Regions from separate parts of the Homo sapiens genome. Here region 2 is linked to region 1. Evidence: fine-mapped expression QTL. A gene starts in region 1. The other region holds a variant in brackets. All regions are shown on one strand. Distances are from middle to middle.

The links. PIP is the estimated chance that this variant, and not a neighbour inherited with it, causes the effect.
Region 2: its variant is fine-mapped to the expression of ADCK1 in regulatory T cells (Schmiedel 2018, PIP 0.95).

The regions. Positions count from the first base shown.
Region 1 is chr14:77,794,461-77,804,560 of GRCh38, forward strand. ADCK1 (aarF domain containing kinase 1) reads left to right here and starts at 5,649. Exons shown (of 11, transcript NM_020421.4): 1 at 5,649-5,710. RefSeq lists silencers at 1,760-1,809, 1,820-1,869, 5,575-5,934 and enhancers at 4,974-5,512, 5,513-6,051, 6,125-6,174, 6,185-6,264, 7,646-8,485.
Region 2 is chr14:77,899,355-77,909,454 of GRCh38, forward strand. It overlaps ADCK1 (aarF domain containing kinase 1), which reads left to right. Exons shown (of 11, transcript NM_020421.4): 7 at 8,449-8,565. Among named protein-coding and RNA genes, the nearest start is that of ADCK1, 100 kb to the left of the region's middle. The variant T/C (reference allele first, on the strand shown) is at 5,692.

The DNA.
Region 1 (10,100 bases):
AGCAGAGAACAAATTGCCAGGATGGAGCAGACCATTGAAGATATGGGGGAATAGCAAGTGTAACGGCTGCCCAGATAGCAGCCAGCTTGGCAGATTGAGAACAGAAAGGAAGCTGATGCGGTTGGAGTGGAGTGAGCCAGGGAAGAGAAGGGTGGGAAATGAGGCTGGAGAGAGGGAGTGGAGCCAGCCTCTGGGGAGCCAGGAGGGTCAGGCTGAAGGGGTGGGTTGCCCCTCCACACCTGTGGGTGTTTCTCGTAAGGTGGAACGAGAGACTTGGAAAAGAAAAAGACACAGAGACAAAGTATAGAGAAAGAAATAAGGGGACCCTGGGGACCAGCGTTCAGCATATGGAGGATCCCGCCAGCCTCTGAGTTTTCTTAGTATTTATTGATCATTCGTGGGTGTTTCTCCGAGAGGGGGATGTGTCAGGGTCACAAGACAATAGTGGGGAGAGGGTCAGCAGACAAACACGTGAACAAAGGTCTTTGCATCATAGACAAGGTAAAGGATTAAGTGCTGTGCTTTTAGATATGCATACACATAAACATCTCAATGCTTTACAAAGCAGTATTGCTGCCCGCATGTCCCACCTCCAGCCCTAAGGCGCTTTTCCCCTATCTCAGTAGATGGAACGTACAATCGGGTTTTATACCGAGACATTCCATTGCCCAGGGACGGGCAGGAGACAGATGCCTTCCTCTTGTCTCAACTGCAAGAGGCATGCCTTCCTCTTATACTAATCCTCCTCAGCACAGACCCTTTACAGGAGTTGGGCTGGGGGACGGTCAGGTCTTTCCCTTCCCACGAGGCCATATTTCAGACTATCACATGGGGAGAAAACTTGGACAATACCTGGCTTTCCTAGGCAGAGGTCCCTGCGGCCTTCCGCAGTTTTTGTGTCCCTGGGTACTTGAGATTAGGGAGTGGTGATGACTCTTAAGGAGCATGCTGCCTTCAAGCATCTGTTTAACAAAGCACATCTTGCACCGCCCTTAATCCATTTAACCCTGAGTTTGACACAGCACATGTTTCAGAGAGCACGGGGTTAGGGGTAAGGTCACAGAATCTCAAGGCAGAAGAATTTTTCTTAGTACATAACAAAATGGAGTCTCCCATGTCTATTTCTTTCTACACAGACACAGTAACAATCTGATCTCTCTTGCTTTTCCCCACATCAGGCAAAGAGTTTGGATTTTCTTCTCAGTGTCATGACACTCCTCTGAACAGCAACATTCAGCTTCCAAAGCACTTGCACCATTGCACTTGATCCTCACAAGCCCTTTGAGGTAGATAGGACTGACAATAGTATTAACTCCATTTTATCAAGACAGAAACTAAAGCTCTGCCAAAATTAGAAAACCTGCTGTGAGTCACCCAGTTCAAATAAGATTCTTTGACTCTAAATCGGGGTTTTTAACCTCAGCTGTGCATTGAAATCCTACAGGGAGCTCTACAAAATACCTATGACTCAGTCCCATTCCCAGTAGTTGAAGGGGTGCTAGTGCCAGCTATGGCCCAGGAAGACTTTTAAAGCTCTCCAGGTGATTTTTTTTTTTAGACTGGGTTTTTCTCTGTCACCCAGGCTGGAATGCGGTGGTGGTGCAATCATGCCTCACTGTACCCTTGACCTTCTGGGCTCAAGTTATCTTCCCACGTGAGCCTCCTGAGTAGTTGGGATTTTAGGCATGAGCCACTGTGCCTGGCCCTTATTATTATTTTATTTTTAATTTATTATTATTTTTTGAGATGGAGTCTTGCTCTGTCACCCAGGCTGGAGTGCAGTGACATGATCTCGGCTCACTGCAACCTCTGCCTCCTAGGTTCAAGCGAGTATCCTGCCTTAGCCTCTAGAGCAGCTGGGACTACAGGCGTGTGACACCACGCCCAGCTAAGTTTTGTATTTTTAGTAGAGACGGGGTTTCACCATGTTGGCCAGGCTGGGCTGGAATTCCTGACCTCAAGTGATCTGCCTGCCTTGGCCTCCCTAAGTGCTGGGATTACAGGTGTGAGCCACTGCACCTGGCCTAATGCTCCCTTTTTTCTGTTCCTAAGCCACTTTGTTCATACCTCAATCTTAACACTTCTCACATTATTTGGAAGTTATCAATCTTCTTATCTTAATGCCTATACATTGCAAACTTTAGATGGTGGGGGCTGTGTTATTTAACTCTATACTACTGCTACCTCTGTGCTGCAATTATCTTTTTTTTTCTTTTTTAGTGACCGGGTTTAGCTCTCTCTCTGTTGCCCAGCTGGAGTGCAGTGGCAAGACTCATCAAAGCTCACTGCAGCCTTGAACTCCTGGGCTCAAGATCCTCCCTCCCTGGCCTCCAGAGTAGCTGGGACTACAGGCATGCGCCACCATGCCCAGCTAATTTTTAATTTTTCTGTAATCTCATAGGGTCTGGCTATGTTGCTCAGGCTGGTCTCTAACTCCCAGCTTCAAGCGATTCTCCTGCCTTGGCCTCCCAAACTGTCGTGGTTACAGGGATAAGCCACTGTGCTCAGTCTATGCTGTCTTTCAATAAAGACAAGTGCTTAAATTTAATGTAGTTTAAATTTATCAAAGTTTTATTTACAGTTTGTGATTATGGCACTTAATAAACCCTACCCTGAGATCATAAGGATGTTTTCTTTTCTTGTAAAAGTTATAATTTTGGGGAACGATAGTAAGAAGAAAAAAAAAGTTGTAATTTTAAAATGCTTTAATTTCCCCTGTAAGTCTTTAACCTACCTTGAATTAGTTTTTGCATAGGGGATCCAACAGGTAACTGGTTGTTCCAGCCCATGTACTGAATACTCTATCTTCCCTCACTGAACTATAATTCCAGCCATACCTCATTTCATAGATGCCTGCATGTTTGGGCTCTGTAGGTGGTTCCATTTCCCCCTCTGCCTTTCCCTATTCCAATATCACATGGTCTTAATTTGTATAGCTTTATAATACATGTTGACATGGAAGGGTGCGTCCTTGAAACACATTTTTCTTCTTCAAGAATGTTTTGGCTATGCTTTGCCTTAAAGTGGTGGTTTTTTTTTGTTTTTTGTATTTTTTTTTTTTTTTGAGACAAAGTCTCGCTCTGTCACCCAGGCTGGAATTCAGTGGTATGATCTTGGCTCACTGCAACATTTGTCTCCCGGGTTCAAGGATTCTCTTGCCACAGCCTTCTGAGTAGCTGGGATTACAGGTGTGCACCACCATGCCTGGCTAATTTTTGTATTTTAGTAGAGATGGGGTTTTACCATGTTGGCCAGGCTGGTGATGAACTCCTGACCTCAACTGATCCACCTGCCTTAGCCTCCCAACGTGCTGGGATTACAGGCACGAGCCACTGCGCTGCCCTTTGTTTTTTCATACACACTTTTGATTAGTTTGTGAAGGTCCAGAAAAAATTATGTTGGAAATTTGATTGGAACTGCATTGGACTGATAGATTAATTCCCCCATGAAAAAAATAGCTCAAGAGATGTTTATAGAATAAACAAACGTCTGAGGCCTGGCGTGGTGGCTCACACCTGTAATCCCAGCACTTTGGGAGGCCAAGGCCAGAGGATGGCTTAGCACAGAAATTCGAGACCAGCCTGGGCAATATAGTGAGACCACACCCCCCAGCTTTTCTTGAGAAAAAATTTAAAAAATTTAGCCAGGCGTGGCAGTATGTGCTTGTAGTCCCAGCTACTCCACAGACTGAGGCAGGAGGGTACCTTGAGGACAGGAAGTTGAGGCTACAGTGATGGAGCCTCTACACTCCAGCTTGGGCAACACAGCCAGACCCTGTCTCAAAAAAAAAAAGAGAAATGTTTTTGATACATGTCTTCAAAGTGCATCTTATAAGTCAACATTTGATAATGGAGATCAGTGAATGAATGAATAAGGGCCAAAGATAACTAAGATTAGCTAGCATATTATATTTATTTATTTATTTATTTTGAGACGAGTCTTGCTCTGTTGCCCAGGCTGGAGTGCAGTGGCCCAATCTCAGCTCACTGCAACCTCCACCTCCTGGGTTCAAGCAATTCTCCCACCTCAGCCTCCCGAGTAGTTGGGATAACAGGTGCCCGCCACTATGCTGGGCTAATTTTTCTTTTTCTTTTTTTTCTTTTTGGAGACAGAGTCTCACTCTGTTGCCTAGGCTGGAGTGCAGTGGCGTGATCTCAGCTCACTGCAACCTCCGCCTCCCGGGTTCAAGCGATTCTCCTGCCTCAGCTTCCTGAGTAGCTGAAATTCCAGACGTGCACCACCACACCAGGCTAATTTTTGTATTTTTAGCAGAGACAGATTTCACTATGTTGGCCAGGCTGGTCTCAAATTCCCGGCCTCAAGTGGTCCGCCCACCTTGGCCTCCCAAGGTGCTGGGATTACAGGAATGAGCCACCGCACCCGGCTTAATTTTTCTATTTTTAGTAGAAATGGGGTTTCACTATGTCGGCCTGGCTGGTCTCCAACCCCTAGCCTCAGGTGATCTGCCCGCCTCAGCCTCCCAAAGTGCTGGGATTACAGGTGTGAGCTACTGCGTCCTGCCCAGCCAGCATTATTATTATTATTTTTGAGACGGAGTTTCGCTGTTGTTGCCTAGGCTGGAGTGCAATGGCGTGACCTCGGCTCACCGCAACTTCTGCCTCCCGGGTTTCTAGTGCCTCAGCCTCCTGAGTAGCTGGGATTACAGGCATGCACCACTAGGCCTGGCTAATTTTTGCTATTATTAGTAGGGACGGGGTTTCTCCATGTTGGTCAGGTTGGTCTCAAACTCCCGACCTCAGGTGATCTGCTAGCCTTGGCCTGCTGGGATTACAGGCGTGAGCCACCGCCCCGCCAGCATACATCAATTGTCAGTAAATTTCTTCTTCGCCTACTAGTTCCAATATCTTATTTAAAATCTATGGCCCGGTGAGGTGGCTCAGGCTTGTAATCCCAGCACTTTGGGAAGTCAAGGCGGGTGGATTGCCTGAGTTCAGGAGTTCAAGACCAGCCTGGGCAAAATGGCGAAACCCCGTCACTCCTAAAAATACAAAAAATTAGCAGGGCGTGGTAGCACACTCCTGTAATCCCAGCTACTCAGGAGGCTGAGGCAGGAGAATCACTTGAACCCGGGAGGCGGAGGTTGCAGTGAGGCGAGATGGGCCACTGCACTCCAGCTTGGGCGACAGAGTGAGACTCTGTCTCAAAATGAATGAATGAATGAATGAATGAATGAATAAAATCTACGAGGTCGGGCGCAGTGGCTCACTCTTGTAATCCCAGCACTTTGGGCGGGCGGATCATTTGAGGTCAGGAGTTTGAGACCGGCTTGGCCAACATGGTGAAACCCCATCTCTAAAAAAAATACAAAAATTAGCTGTACTGCTTGGGCGACAGAGCGAGACTCAGTCTCAAAAAAAAAAAATCTACAAATCCACTTCATCTTTCATTAAACACGAACCTGGGACGTAGTTAGAATGTCTTGAAGAAAATATTTCAGTAATATTCCAAGTCCGTCGCCCTGGCAAAGCAACAAGGCCACCTGACGGAGTAAGCCCGAGACCCCTGTGCCTCCACAGTACTGCCCGCGGGATCGCGGCGTGGGGAACCAGGAACTACAAGTCCCGGCAGGCCGCGCGCGCCTCGGCTTCACTAAGCGCAGTCAGGTGGCTGTCCCCGCACGGTTCCCAGCTAATTCCCCGCTACCGGGTTGCGGCCGGAAGCCGGGCGCCGCGGCTCTGCTTCCCTCGGGGTGAGTAGGGGCAGCTCGCCGGAGGCCGGCGCAGAGCTCGGGCCGACCAGCCTGGCAGGGCCGCACCGCGCCTGGAGCGCGAGGGAACCGGCATGGACACGCCGGGAGTCGGCCTCTGCTCCGGTTGTGCAGCCGCCCTGGGCGCCGGGAGGGACAGCCCCATGACCTTGTCACCTGGGCCCGGCGCGCGGCCACGTGGCTCGGGTGACTCGCATTGCCCCGCCCCCCTGCAGTGACTTCTCCAGTTTGGCACACCAGTGGGCTTTCATGTGACCTGTCCACTTCAGTGGCACAGTCTTGCAGGCACCCGAGTGGGCAGAGCTGGAGGAGGGCCGGAGGTGGCTCACCCAGACGCCTTCACCCCCTGGTGGCCCTGTGAGTTCCGAGGCAGAAGCAGCTGGAGCTGGAGCGTGGTCTGGGCAAGAGCAGGGGGCGATGCCCATATCCTGGCCCTCCACCCGGTCTTGCGAACGTGCCCCAGACCGCTGCTTATCTCCAGCATCTTGCAGGGCCCTGGGCTTCCAGATCACACAGTAGATATGTGCTAACAGCAGCCAGTGTGTGTGGAGAGCAACCTTTAGATAAGACACCTAGAACAGCCCTCTCCCAGGGTTAAGTGGCATTTACTTTCTACTAACAAGAAAGTCATTCAACAAGTATTTATTGTTTACCTCCATGATACTTGGCACTTAGTAGGTGCTCAAGAAATATTTGCAGAGTTGAAGTGAATTAGACTTTATCTGTGGCTTCATATGTTTTATTTAATAATTTTCTTGGGGCTGGATGTGGTGGCTGATGCCTGTAATCCCAGCACTTTGGGAGGCCAAGATGGGAGGATTGCTTGAGGGCAGGAGTTCAACACCAGGCTGGGCAACATAGTGAGACTCCCGTCTGTATTAAAAGAAAAAAAGGAAAATAAATAAAATAATTTTCTTACTACAGTGGTTCTCAAACTTTAGCATGCACCAGAGTCACCTGGAGAGCTAGTAACAACACACAGTACTGGACCCCATCCCCAAAGTTTCTGATTCTGTAAGTCTGGTATGAGGACCAAGAATTGGCGTTTCTAACATGCACCCAAGTGATGCAGTTGCTGTTGGTCTGGGGACCATACGTTGAGTACCACTGCTTTATAGGAAAAAAAATCCTGTGAACTTAAAGCACTATCTCTTCACACCTGGTTACGGGTCTTTCTGTCTTTATTTGCCAGTTTTACTTTTTTGGTGATTGTAAATATGTGCATATTACTTTGTACACTGTTAACTCCCTCCATATTAATTTATATACAGATTTTAATGTAGTCTATACTTGTCATTTTTCCTGGTTACATCATATTCTACCTTATTGGGTCATTCTTTGCTTGGCCATTTCTCAACTGGCCTCAGGGATGTGCGATTTGATCTGTACTAGAAGAGTGTGCATATTCTTACTTTCTGCTATGCAGTCATTTTCTTGTCAGACAAAGGACCTGTAAGAATATTAGTTGGGGCCGGGTGCGGTGGCTCACACCTGTAATCCCAGCACTTTGGGAGGCTGAGGTGGGCGAATCACTTGAGGTCAGGCGTTCAATGCCAGCCTGGCCAACATGGTGAAACCCCATCTCTACCAAAAATACAAAAAAATTACCTGGGCGTAGTGGTGTGTGCCTGTAGTCCCAGCTACTTGGGAGGCTGAGGAGGAGAACAGCTTGAACCCGGGAGACGGAGGCTGCAGTGAGCCGAGATCGTGTCACTGCACTCCAGCCTGGGCGACTGAGCAAGACTCCGTCTAAAAAAAAAAAATTTAGTTGGGTCAGCCATCCATTTCTTCACCAGGGTAACTCACTAAATATGCCTCCTGGGTTAAGGTTTCCATGTTGCAGGGACTCCAGTGGCCTATTTCAGGGCCCAGCAAGCTGCTTGTTCTTGTGCACTTTTTGCTCTCTTGGTGGGAGCAGTCATACATGGATTCAAGTTCTGCCTCCATCACTTACCAGCTCCTTGGCCAAGTTTTCTACCTTTTCTAAAACACCACTTCCTTATCCATAGATTGAAGCTCTAATAGCATGCACCTCGGAATCTGGTTGTGTGAGTTAATGAGCTAATAAGTGCTTGGTACTGTAGCTCTCCCGTTGGAAGCTCACTCTCTTCTCTTACCTGCTGCTTGCTCTTTGCATCTGGCTTTGCCCTATTCTCCCTCAGTCTGCCTTTCCTAGGATGGACTGAATGGAGGATTTCTATTCCTTGCCTGGGTGAGAATTATTTTTGTTGTCTATTCTGGGACCTTGGCATCAGTCAGGGATTCCTTTTTTTATTTTTTGAGACAGAGTGTTGCTCTGTCGCCCAGGCTGGAGTGCAGTGGCACGATCTTGGCTCACTGCAGCCTCTGCCTCTCGGGTTCCAGCAATTCTCTTGCTTCAGCCTCCCGGGATTCCTTTATTTAATCAACATTGATTTAAGGACCTTGAGTGCTTAGGCATCAAACACTAGGAAAGGGAGTTTGATTAAAATTTGGTTCCTAGCCGGGCGCGGTGGCTCACGCCTGTAATCCCAGCACTTTGGGAAGCCAAGGCGGGCGGATCACGAGGTCAGGAGATCGAGACCATCCTGGCTAACATGGTGAAACACCGTCTCTACTAAAAAAAATACAAAAAAATTAGCTGGGCGTGGTGCCGGGTGCCTGTAGTCCCAGCTACTCAGGAGGCTGAGGCAGGAGAATGGCTGGAACCCGGGAGGCGGAGCTTGCAGTGAGCCGAGATTGCGCCACTGCACTCCAGCCTGGGCGACAGAATGAGACTTCATCTCAAAATAAATAAATAAATACAATTTGGTTCCTGGACTACATTACTATCTTAGGGAGGGCAGACTGTAAACCTGCTCAGGCCAACTTCACACAGTCCCTTGCTATTGACTTGGTGTCTTTGGCATCTTTCCAGACTTGAGGCATGATGGTATCATTCACTTTGTGTGCTTTCTATCCATATCAGGGACCAGGTTCTTCTGAAGACCCTATCACTCTCTCCAAGGGTATTTTTGGGTCTTTTTTCAGTTTTGGGGGCAGACTAGAAGAAATAATGCTCATTGGTATAATAGTCTCTCTAGGAAATGGGAGGAGGCCATGGTCACTTTTCATGGAACTAGAGACCTAAGTGCCTTTTCTCTGTGGTAATTCTCATTTGTGCACCAAACAGGGAAAGGTGATTCCAGGCCTTTAGTCCTGAAATGTAGCATAGGGAGAGGGCTGCCAATGGATGGAAACTGAAAAGGCCTAGCTAGTCACTGACTCCGATGAACAGTAAGTGCTTGGTTTCCCATTTAGTTCTGTCAAGGGGACGGACATTTCGTGTGACCATCAGCTTCCCATTTGTACGTCCCAGACTCTCCTGTTGCTTCATTTTCATAACCTACTGGGGTGTTTCCTGTGGTCCAGCGAGATGGATTCCATTCTTGTCATTGATTTGACAATAAAACAGCCATGTCAGCTTTGCAGCTCTCCTAAACATTTGATAGACTGAAATGGCTTGTTTCTAGTGGGAGGCATTGGTTGATCTTGTGACATCCTGTTGATTTTGGGGGCTCCAAACAGTGCCTCCCACATGCCTGGCACTGGGTCAGAAATCATAGTCTCTGCCCACAGCAACAGTTGCATTTACTTGAGAACAGCAGTAAGGACTTTAGTGAACAGGAGTCCAGGTGTTCCTATCAAAGACGTTACCTGTCATAAAGAGAAGGGCTGAATACTTGGAATGAGTGGGAAGGCCCTGCTCAAGCTCTTAGCCATTTTACTAGCTGAGCCACCTGGGACAAATCTCTCACCCTCTCTGCTCCTTGGTTTCCTCATTTATACCTGGGGATGGTAATAATATTTGTCTCTCCTCACTGGGTTGTGTGGAATATCTAATGAGTTGAGTGTAAAGGGCTCTATTTTAATATAAAGGCTAGTTCTTGCTAGTGTTATTATCTAGTGATTAGGTTTAAGGGTTTTGGTGGCCTCAGACCCCCTGTAAGGTATGTACTGTTAGGAGAGGTGACTCAGGTGAAAGTCAAAAAGGCTAGTAAGCAGAACAGGGCAGGTGATTCATTAACAAAGGGTTTAATAAGGAAAAATGTTTTCAATTGACAGACATATTTCACGCCTGACAGGGTCTTTTACAATACCCCGAGGGAAGCAACTCATTTGCATGTTAAAGACTCAGGGACACCTTATGGAAAACTCTAGCTCCAGTCTATTTAGATGCCATTCGGCTCCTGTATCATCTATTTTATGTATTTCAATTTCCATCTCTTTTATCACTGAGGACATTTGCACGAAAACAGGGTTTCGAGAGTTGTGTCTGCTTCGCTGTTACTTCCCACCCAGAGGTGGTCTCAAGGGTAGGGGTGGCCTCATTGCATACAGGGGACAGGTGTGG
Region 2 (10,100 bases), 100 kb after region 1:
GGGACATCTTCTTCCTGAGTCCTCTTACTGAGGATGAATGACATCACTGGTGATGTGCATTAAATCACTTGAAGGCAATTTGCAAAGAAATATCAAGTGTGATTGTTGACCCATTAGTCAATTAAACAGATGTTTATTGAATAATCGACAACTACAAGACACTGAGCCTTAGCCAAGAACCTATATGCCGTGGTCTCTGCCTCTGTGAGGCATGGGATGGTGATGATGATGGCGATGCTGATAGCTAACACTACTGTACGCTGGGACTGTTTTAAACACATGTGTTTTACCTTGGCTCATACAGTTGGTTCTTCTGTAACAAAACATATGTGTCCCTAGAAATACTGCAGTTATGGAAAATCACATAAGAGAAACCACAGAGCTTATGGGGAAAATAGAGTTAGGGGCACAACACTCAAAAAAATTCATCAGTGGCTGGGCACAGTGGCTCACACCTGTAATCCCAGCACTTTGGGAGGCTGAGGCAGGTGGATCACCTGAGGTCAGGAGTTCGAGACCAGCCTGGCCAACATGGTGAAACCTCGTCTCTACTAAAAATATAAAAATTAGCCTGGCGTGGTGGCATGTGCCTGTAATCTCAGCTGTTTGGGAGGCTGAAGCAAGAGAATCACTTGAACCCGGGAGGTGGAGATTGCAGTGAGCTGAGATCACGCCACTGCATTCAGGTCTGGGCAACAAGAGTGAAACTCCGTCTCAAAAAAAAAAAAAAAGAAAATTCATCAGTAATACAGTAATATAGGAAAGAAAAGAAGATAGGAATGAATAAAAACCAGTAGCATAGTTTTACACATGTTAAATGGCTAAGAAATACATAAGACCACAATACACATGGCACTTTACCTTGAGCCTGCTGTGGAAGTGGGCATCAGAAGGGTTGCTGCTTGTTAGTTTTGTGGGGTGGTGGGAGGAGTCCTTTGAAATGGGACGGAGGCTGGGCATGGTGGCTGATGGCAGTAATCGCAGTTCTTTGGGAGGCGGAGGTGGGCAGATCACTTGAGGGAAGGAGTTCAAGACCAGCCTGGCCAACATGGTGAAACCCTGTCTCTACTAAAAATACAAAAAGTAGCTGGGCATGGTGGTGCACTCCTGTAATCTCAGCTACTCGGGAGGCTGAGACAGGAGAATCGCTTGGACCCAGGAGGCAGACGTTGTAGTGAGCTGAGATCATGCCATTGCATTGCAGCCTGGGCAACAGAGCGAGACTGCGTCTCAAGGAACAACAACAACAACAAAAAAGAAATGGGACAGAAAGTTGTAAGGCCAGATGTGGGTGACTCACCGACTCGCAGCGATGTCGAGGTGTGTTTGTTTTGTGTATTCCAATGTGGCACGGCTCTGCTGGATGCAGCTTTCTGCATTCACAGTGTTTCTCGCAGATGATAGTACACATAAGCACATCCAAAATTTGCATTATGATCAAACTATTCCCTAACATATCAATTGCATTGGAACAAATTTGTGTTTTCAAAACAAGTATTATAGCAGAACTGTTCTATGTAATAAGAGACACTTAATGTGGGAAACAATATCAGATAATATGAAGTCGCAGCTGTCAGTGCCCCATGAGAAGTACGGCTTCTACATGCTCTGAGGATTCAGAAGTAGGGACTCCCATGGCCTACTGGGTCAGGGCAGGCTCTGCTGAGAAGTTGGCACTAGAGTTGGTGTTCTTTTTTTTTTTTTTTTTGAGACAGAGTCTCGCTCTGTTGCCCAGACTGGAGTGCAGTGGCGCGATCTCAGCTCACTGCAGTCTCCGCCTCCTGGGTTCAAGTAATTCTCCTGTCTCAGTCTCCCAAGTAGCTGGGATCATAGGCATGTGCCACCATGCCTTACTAATATTTGTATTTTTTTTTTTAGTAGAGATGGGGTTTCACCATGTTGTCAGGCTAGTCTTGAACTCCCGACCTCAAATGATTTGCCCACTTTGGCCTCCCAAAGTGCTGAGATTACAGGTGTGAGCCACTGCTCCTGGCCCTGGAGCTGGTCCTTTTTTTTTTTTTTTAATTAATTATTTTATTATTATGATTTTTCTGAGTCAGAGTCTCACTCTGTCACCCAGGCTGGTGCGTAGTGGTGCAATCTCTGCTCACTGCAACCTCCACCTCCCGGGTTCAGGCGATTCTCCTGCCTCAGCCTCCTGAGTAGCTAGGACTACAGGTGTGTGCCACCACACCTGGCTAATTTTTGTATTTTTAGTAGAGACACGGTTTTGCCATTTTGGCCAGGCTGGTCTCAAACTCCTGACCTCAAATGATCCGCCTGCCTCGGCCTCCCAAAGTGCTGGGATTATAGGCGTGAGCCACCGCGGCCGGCCGGAGCTGGTCTTTAAGGACCATCCTGGTGTTCTCTCAGAGCACACAGGAACTGGGGAGAGAGATGTATGCTACACCACTGTTCTTCCAACACATTTGTCCTTCCTGAGGTGTATGCCTATTAAAACAGGGTTACCCCCTTTATCCCAACAGTGCAGGGCTTGGAGGGCTCTTCTGGTTGTCTACACTGAGCTTAGCTTCCAACTCTAGGATGGATCACCCTTCCCTCTTCTTTACCAGGCCTGGAGAATGCACGAGAGGGGTCACCAAGCCCTCAGGAGCTCCATGTGCAGGTTCTAGAGCCAACAGTCAAGCTGTGCTGTTCTTGGGGAGGATGGCTCAGAACATTGGATCAGGGAAAAGGGACTCTCTCATTCTTCCCTAAGGTGTCCTTTTGGCTTTTGAAGACATCATGAGAAATGGAGGAAGTGTCTATATTTTTGCTCTCCTGATTGACTAACAGGGATGGAATGACTGAAGATGTGTCTATTCTAACCACTTGAGAATCCGCAGGAGGAAGAACCGCAGCTGTGTTGATCAGTGCAGTGTATTGACACATTGACTGTGGTGGAAGATAGAACCCATGAAGTTTAGCTCTTTGTGTGTGGTGAGGGTTGGGTACGTCTCCATACTCCCAGTATGCTTGACTGGCATTTTGTTGGCTGCCATTGTCGGTGTGGATGTACAGACCCTCTTGTGTGTGTAAATCCAGGAGTGCAGCCTAGATCTGGTGTCACTGCCCCAGCCTTGGAGCTCAAACCACCAGTTCAGTGAAAACTTGGCTCTTTGAGACAAGTGATAATGTTAACTAATTAGCATAATGCTATAGAGTCTAATACATGCTTCTACTTGCTTATTCCATTTCTTTTATTCCCAAGCTTGTTGCTGTGCTGGGAGCTGAGGTTTGTCCCTGCTCTGGAAAACTTCTCATCTAGTGGAGGGACAGACACAGCAATGTGTTGTTGCAGTGCAGGTTTGTTAGCACCATGACAGGCATTCATCTGTGTTTCTGTGGATTCCCAAGAGGAAGTACGTAATTCTACCCAGGATAAAGGGCTCTGGTGAGTGCTTCTAAGAAGTATTGACTATAGGCAATATATATTGATTATTTCTTCTTCATCAGGAGCTGCTGCATTGAACAGTCTGCAGGTACTATGGTGTTGAGTCCTTCCAGCAGGCATCAGCCCATATTGCAGAGGACAGTTTGAGTAGAGGAGCTAGGGCAACATCCCAGATTTTCTGACTTCAAGTGTGGTGCTCCTCTCAGGATACTCTGCTGCCATTTACCGGCAGGGGTGCCCCTCAGAGCCAGAACTATGAGCCAGACAGAACCATCTCCTCTACTGTTCCCATGGAAACAGCAAAATTGTCCCCTGGCTGGGGCCAACTGGCAAGTGCCAGACCAAGACATGCAATAATAACAATAACACACATTTTTCAAATGAAGATGCCAAATGGGTAAATAATGAATATACCAATTTGACCTGCTGTTTCCAAAACTTGCACACCCTTCCTAAGACAGTGGTGGAATTAAGGCTCTTGAGTAATTAATTTTGCCTAAACACATAACAAGGGGGAAGTGAATTTTGCACTGTGAACCCAGTTCAGCTCTTAAAACTGGAGATAGACTGCTTTTGCACACTGGCTCCCGATCACAACATCTGTGCATAATTAAGCCTCCGCAAAGACTTTACCTCTCAGTGTGTGAGGCATCTTCCGGTGCTTATGTGCGGTTTAAGAACCTCAGCCCTGTGCTATAAATCTCCCAGGCTCAGACAAGCACTGAATGCAAATATGGCGTCAGGGGGACTGGGAGAGGGTGAGGGGGCAGCTAGGCTGAATGATTAAGGCCAGGCTTAGTGGATCTGGCAGCAGAGCGTATGTGCCAGGGGATGGAAACAGGACAAGTGGTAGGGTTTGTGACTCACCTGGGGACAAGGTGGCAGGGGAGAAGCTTTATAACCACAGGGTTTGGGACTGGAAGTGATGAGACCATTTCTGTATGTGTGGAGGTGGGGATAGGTGTGCAGGGCCATGCCAGGGTTCCTTAGTGTGAGGTAAGGAGCCCAGGACTCTAGAAATTGTGGACAAACCCTGAGGAGATGTGCATGCTTTTTGGGAAGTATGATAACTTCCCATGAATCTCAAAGATTAGGAACTACAGATGGATAGTAATTAATATATAACTTCTTTTTTGCAGAGTGATTTATATTCTTTAATTCTTTAATTCTTACAACAGCCTCACAAGGGAGGTGCCATAATCACCCCCATATCATCAGTTGGGAGACTGAGGCTCAGAGCTATCAACCCTTTGGGCAGGGTCACAAGGCTTACCACTAAGGGGAGGGAATAGAGGTAGCCTGCTCCAGAGCCTGCATGTTCACCCTCCATATGGTTTTGCTCTGTGGGGAAGTTGTGAATTCCAGTGAACCGTCTAGAGCATAACTCTCAGCCCTGGTGTGTATCAGAGCCCTCTGTGAAACTCGATGTGGCTGTCCTAAGAGCAATCGATGTTTTTTCCAGCAGCTGCTAGTGTCTGGTTCCATGTTGAGTGCCAGTACTCTGCTCATAGTAGTGGGAAATGGGGGCGGAGGTGGGGTTGTGCTTCCACTGTAACCATTATCACCATATTTTTGGTGGAGAAACTGGTGTTCAGAGAGGTTATATAACTTACCCACAGTCACACAGCTTTTAGGTGGCAGAGCCGGGGCTCCAGCCAGCAGCCTGACTCCAAATCTGCCGGTCTGACTGCATGTCTCCAGGCCTTCTGCTGTGCTGGACTCAGGCTCCAGGAGGACTGTGGGCCTAGGGTGATGGGCACTGTCTCAGACAAGCCAGGCGCAGCCTGTTTCGTGGGCATGTTGACCAAAGCATAGAAACAAAGCAGAAATGTGAGGTCAGGGCCAGACTGTGAGGCTGAGGCCCAGGGTCTTGGGCTAAAACTTCTCTAATTGGTGCCCTCCTTCTTGGGGTCCAGATTGGCATCCGTGTGGGAGGCAGGAGGAGCCCACAGGAGGGAGGCCTCTGCTCTGTGGCAAAGAGGTAGAACCTGGACCCAGGGGTCCTAATGGTCAGGGTGTGACCCTGCTGGTGGGGCCGCTGAGCACCCTGGCCATGAGCTCCTTAGAGTTTCAGCTTGCTTTGTTTGGGGGTGGGATGGGGGAGTGCGGGGTGCTTATTGACTCTTTCAAATTTCTCTTTTTCATTTTTTCCTTCTTTGATGGAAGAAGCATAGGACAGGAAATGTGGGCGCTCACTTCACCCCACACCCCCAGGTCCTCCTGCCCATCTGGTGATTTAGGCGCAGCTCACTTTTTTAACTGAGCAGGAGCAGTTTGGCATTTTGCAGTCATTTCCA[T/C]GTTATGTCTGTCCAGGGGCACCTGTGGTTCTGAAGCTCCCATGACAAATTCCACTGTTTCCCAGGTTTGATATTTTAGTCATTTCAGATTTAAGCAGCAGAAGCAAGGGGCACATTCTGTGGTTAGACTGGAATGGTGATGTTTGCAGGGAGACCAAAAAGGGGGAAACCGCAGTACACCCAGGACCCTGATGCACAAGCACAGAGAAGCTCCAGCCTGTGGGATTTCTGTTTCCACCTGTGACTCTTTCCTAGCTGGTTTTTTTTTTTTTTTTTTTTGAGATGGAATCTCACTCCCTCTGTCACCGTGGCTGGAGTACAGTGGCGTATTCTTCACCCACTGCAACCTCCGTCTCCCAGGTTCTAGCGATTCTCTTTCCTCAGCCTCAGTGATCTGCCCTCCTTGGCCTCTCAAAGTGCTGGGATTACAGGCGTGAGCCACTGCGCCCAGCCCCTCGCTGTTTTTTAAGCTGCCTCTGGTGGGGCTGGCTAGAGATTTGACCTCTTGTCTCCAGAGCCTTAGGGGCCCACTGTCAAAGGTAGGTTTACAAACAAACCCAAGGGAAGAATTTAACCCGAAAATATGTCCCATTCATTTGGAAGCCATGAACAAAAACAACAGGCAGGGCACGGTGGCTCACGCCTGTAATCCCAGCACTTTGAGAGGCTGAGGCAGGAGGATCTCTTGAGTCCAGGAGTTCGAGGCTGCAGTGCGCTATGATGATGCCACAGCATTCCAGCCTGGGTGACAGAATGAGACCCTGTCTCTAAAGAAACCGACAAAGCAACAATAGCAAACATGCACTCACTTTTTTAAAAAGAAACTTTTTGAAAAATGCCAAGCAAGTCTAAATTTTAAGTTCAAAGTATCAGTTTCACAGATTTCTCTATTGGCCCAGATTTTCAAATGGCAGAAACCGCAGTCAAGCAGCAAACCAAAATAACACCTTGCTTTCTGGTGGAAACTTTGTTCCAACTAGAGCATTTCACTTGTATGTACAGCCCCCATTTATCCTCAGAGGTCCTTACTGAGATAGGGCAGAAACAATTCTGCTTTCCAGTGAGGAAGACTGGGATGTAAAGAAGTTAAGTGGCTAGTCTAAGACACAACAGTATTAGCAGAATTAGGAACAGGAAATAGGTCTGTTGACTTGAGGGCCACTATGTTATTGCTAGATGAATTTGGGTGGTCAGGGTAAAGGAAAATCTTACTCTCCAAAACATTTGAAAAAGCTGCCCATGTTTCTTTATTTGTAAGAGGAAATAAACTCCTCACAATTTGGGGGAAACTCGGCATGCTGGAAGCCCAGTAACCCCTCCCTCCTGGCTGTGGGGGTACTGGTGGGTGTCCCTTGCTCACATGGCAGCCTGGTTGCATTCTAGTCTCTTGCCCGCTCCTGGAGAAATCTGTTCTCTTTTTGGTTTTTGAGTGTTATGAGAGTCAGAGAGGGTTGGAGAGTGTATGTTAGTAATGCATTTGTCTGTAGGCAACTGAAAGCCTCATTTAGAGTGCCTTAAACAAAAGAATTTGTTGTCTTCACATAGCAAGAAGGTTTGCAGTGGTTGCCTACTGACATATGGTTTTGGTGGTTTAACAGTACCAGAGCTGGCTTCTCAGATTTTTAAATTTTTTTATTTTTCCTCATTGTTGCAAGATGGCTGCTACAGCACCAACAGTCACATTCACATTCACTTTCGAGGCAAGAAGAGAAGTGGAAGAAGAGTAGCACTATGCAAATACCCCCTTTTTTTTAAATCAAGGAAATAAAAACCTTCCCAGAATCCCCTAGCAGGTTTCCATTTTTGTTCATAAGTCAGAACTATGTCACATGGCCATACCTACTATAAAGCAGGCAAGGAAAGTATTTAGGTTTTTTATTTGTTTGTTTGTTTTCAGACAGGATCTTGCTCTGTTGCCCAGGCTGGAGTGCAGTGGTGTGATGTATAAGGTCACAGCACACTGGCTTTGACAGCGATCCTCCCACCTTAGCCTCCCAAGCTGGGATCACAGGCACGCACCACTATGCCTGGCTAATTTTTGTATTTACTGTAGAGACAGGGTTTCGCCACGTTGCCCAGGCTGGTCTTGAACTTCTGAGCTCAAGCAATCCACCTGCCCCAGCCTCCCAAAGTGCTGGGATTATAGGTGTGAGCCACTCCGCCTGGCCCCAGTATTTAGTTTTTTTCATCTCTAGGGAAGAGGAGGGTTGGGAATAGATGTTGGGTTAATATCCAATGTTGTCTGCCCCAGGAAACGTGTTTTCCTACAGGAAACAGGCATGAGAAACAAAATTTATCATCTGGTTAAAACTCAGTCATTTGCTCAATACACACAATGCACCCATTACCTGGGTGAAATATTGGAGGCAGAGGGAGGAGTCCGAAGTAGGCCTGGTGGCGGGATGGGGAGAGGAAATATCCTTAACAGCAATGCCCAGGTGTGAGGTGTTCCAACATTTTCCTCCCAAGTCCCAACTTTAGTTTTGGCTCTTAACAGCATTAGAAGGCACTGAGGAGAGTTGGCAAAGCCGGTATCTAAAGGAGTGGGCGGAGGCCTGCTGAGCAGAGGTGGAGTAGCCAGCCTCCCTCTTGGCCTGGCTGTCCCATCCCCACTGTCACCGCTGAGGTCCCTCCTGGGCCTCTTCTCCCTTGCTCTGGGAGGAGCCTCTGTTGCTGTCTGGCTCGCTGTGCCACATTGTCATCCTTGCCCGATTCCCAGCTTCCCCAGACCATCTGACCTGTCCCTTCCTATCCCAGGTCCCCCGAATCCACTGGGACCTGTCCACGGAGCGGGTCCTCCTGATGGAGTTTGTGGATGGCGGGCAGGTCAATGACAGAGACTACATGGAGAGGAACAAGATCGACGTCAATGAGGTGAGGTCAAGAGCTCAGGGCTGCTGTGCCGGGGAACGTGGGCTTGGTCAAGGCTGCCCAGGAAGTGCCTGTGTGTCCAGGTGAGGCCTCAGAGTCTGGCCCCCTTGTCTTTAATAGGGCCCATTGTCTGGAGAATTATAAACTTTGAGCAAGAAAGATTCTTTCAGGTCATTTAGGCCAGCCCTGTGCACACAGCGGCCTGCAGGGACATGCTGAACCCCTTCTGCCATTACCTGCTTTTCCTTTGTACCATCTGAGCCCCACAAAGCTAAGCGGCCACAGAGAACAATGATGCAAAATCAGTGGGACTTAATCCTTTTGGCTCTGTGGGGCCTGTCTGTTGTCTCTTCCCTCTTCCTGCCCTTCTCTCTCCTTCCCACTTCCCAGATCTCAAGGGATCAGGCAAAAAGGGGACAGCAGCAACCAACTGCATCAGCCTCCTAGAGCAGGAAAAAAGAGGTGGGCTTTGTGTGTCCCCCCTCCCATCCCCCTTGTCCCAGGGAATACTGGCCAGTGGGTAGGACCTGTCCCTCACTTTCTGCTTCTTGGTTGCACAGGGTCCCACAGGAATGGGTGGAGTTGTACTTTTTCAACAACATTCATAATTTCATTTTTATGTTTTTAGAGATGGGGTCTTGCTCTGTTGCCTAGACTGGCGTGCAGTGGCACAATCATAGTTCACTGTAATCTGGAACTCCTGGGCTCAAGCAGTCCTCCCACTTTGGCCTCTCAAAGTGCTGGCATTACAGGTGTGAGCCACGTGGCCAGGCTCAACATTGATCATTTTAATAGTGTCTGCTATATGCTAGGTATGGGGGCTCGCAGGGGGACCAGACCTAGTCCCCAGAGCTTAGCATCAGAGTCAGACACACATCTAAATCCTTGCTGTATCTCAGGCAGCGAGAGGGTGTGAGGAGAACCCCAGGGAGAGTGAGGAAGAGGCACTGAGGCCTGCCACAGGTTGGTGTCCCCAGCAGGATGAGTAGGAGTTTTCCAGGGAGTGGCTTTGCAAGAAGGGGAAGGGAATGGGTGAAGTTTGGCAGGGCTGGGGCAGGATTCCTTGGGGTGTGTGGGGAGATAAAGTAATGGTCTTGGGTGTGACCTTGAGGCACTGTGGAGTCACTTCAGGGTTTTGGGGAGTGCAGCAACATGTTCTGCCCTCTGGGATGGAAGGAAGGAAGTGGGCCACGCCCAGTGGAGGTAAATGCTTTTTTTTTTTTTTTTTTTTTCCCTGAGACGGAGTTTTGCTCTTGTTGCCTAGGCTGGAGTGCAATGGCGCAATCTTGGCTCACTGCAACCTCCGCCTCCTGGGTTCAAGTGATTCTCCTGCCTCAGCCTCCCAAGTAGCTGGGATTACAGGCATGCGCTACCATGCCTGGCTAATTTTGTATTTTTAGTAGAGACAGGGTTTCTCCATATTGGTCAGGCTGGTCTTGAACTCCTGACCTCGGGTGATCCGCCTGCCTCGATCTCCCAAAGTGCTGGGATTACAGGCGTGAGCCACCGCGCCTGGCTGTGAATGCTCTTTTCTATTC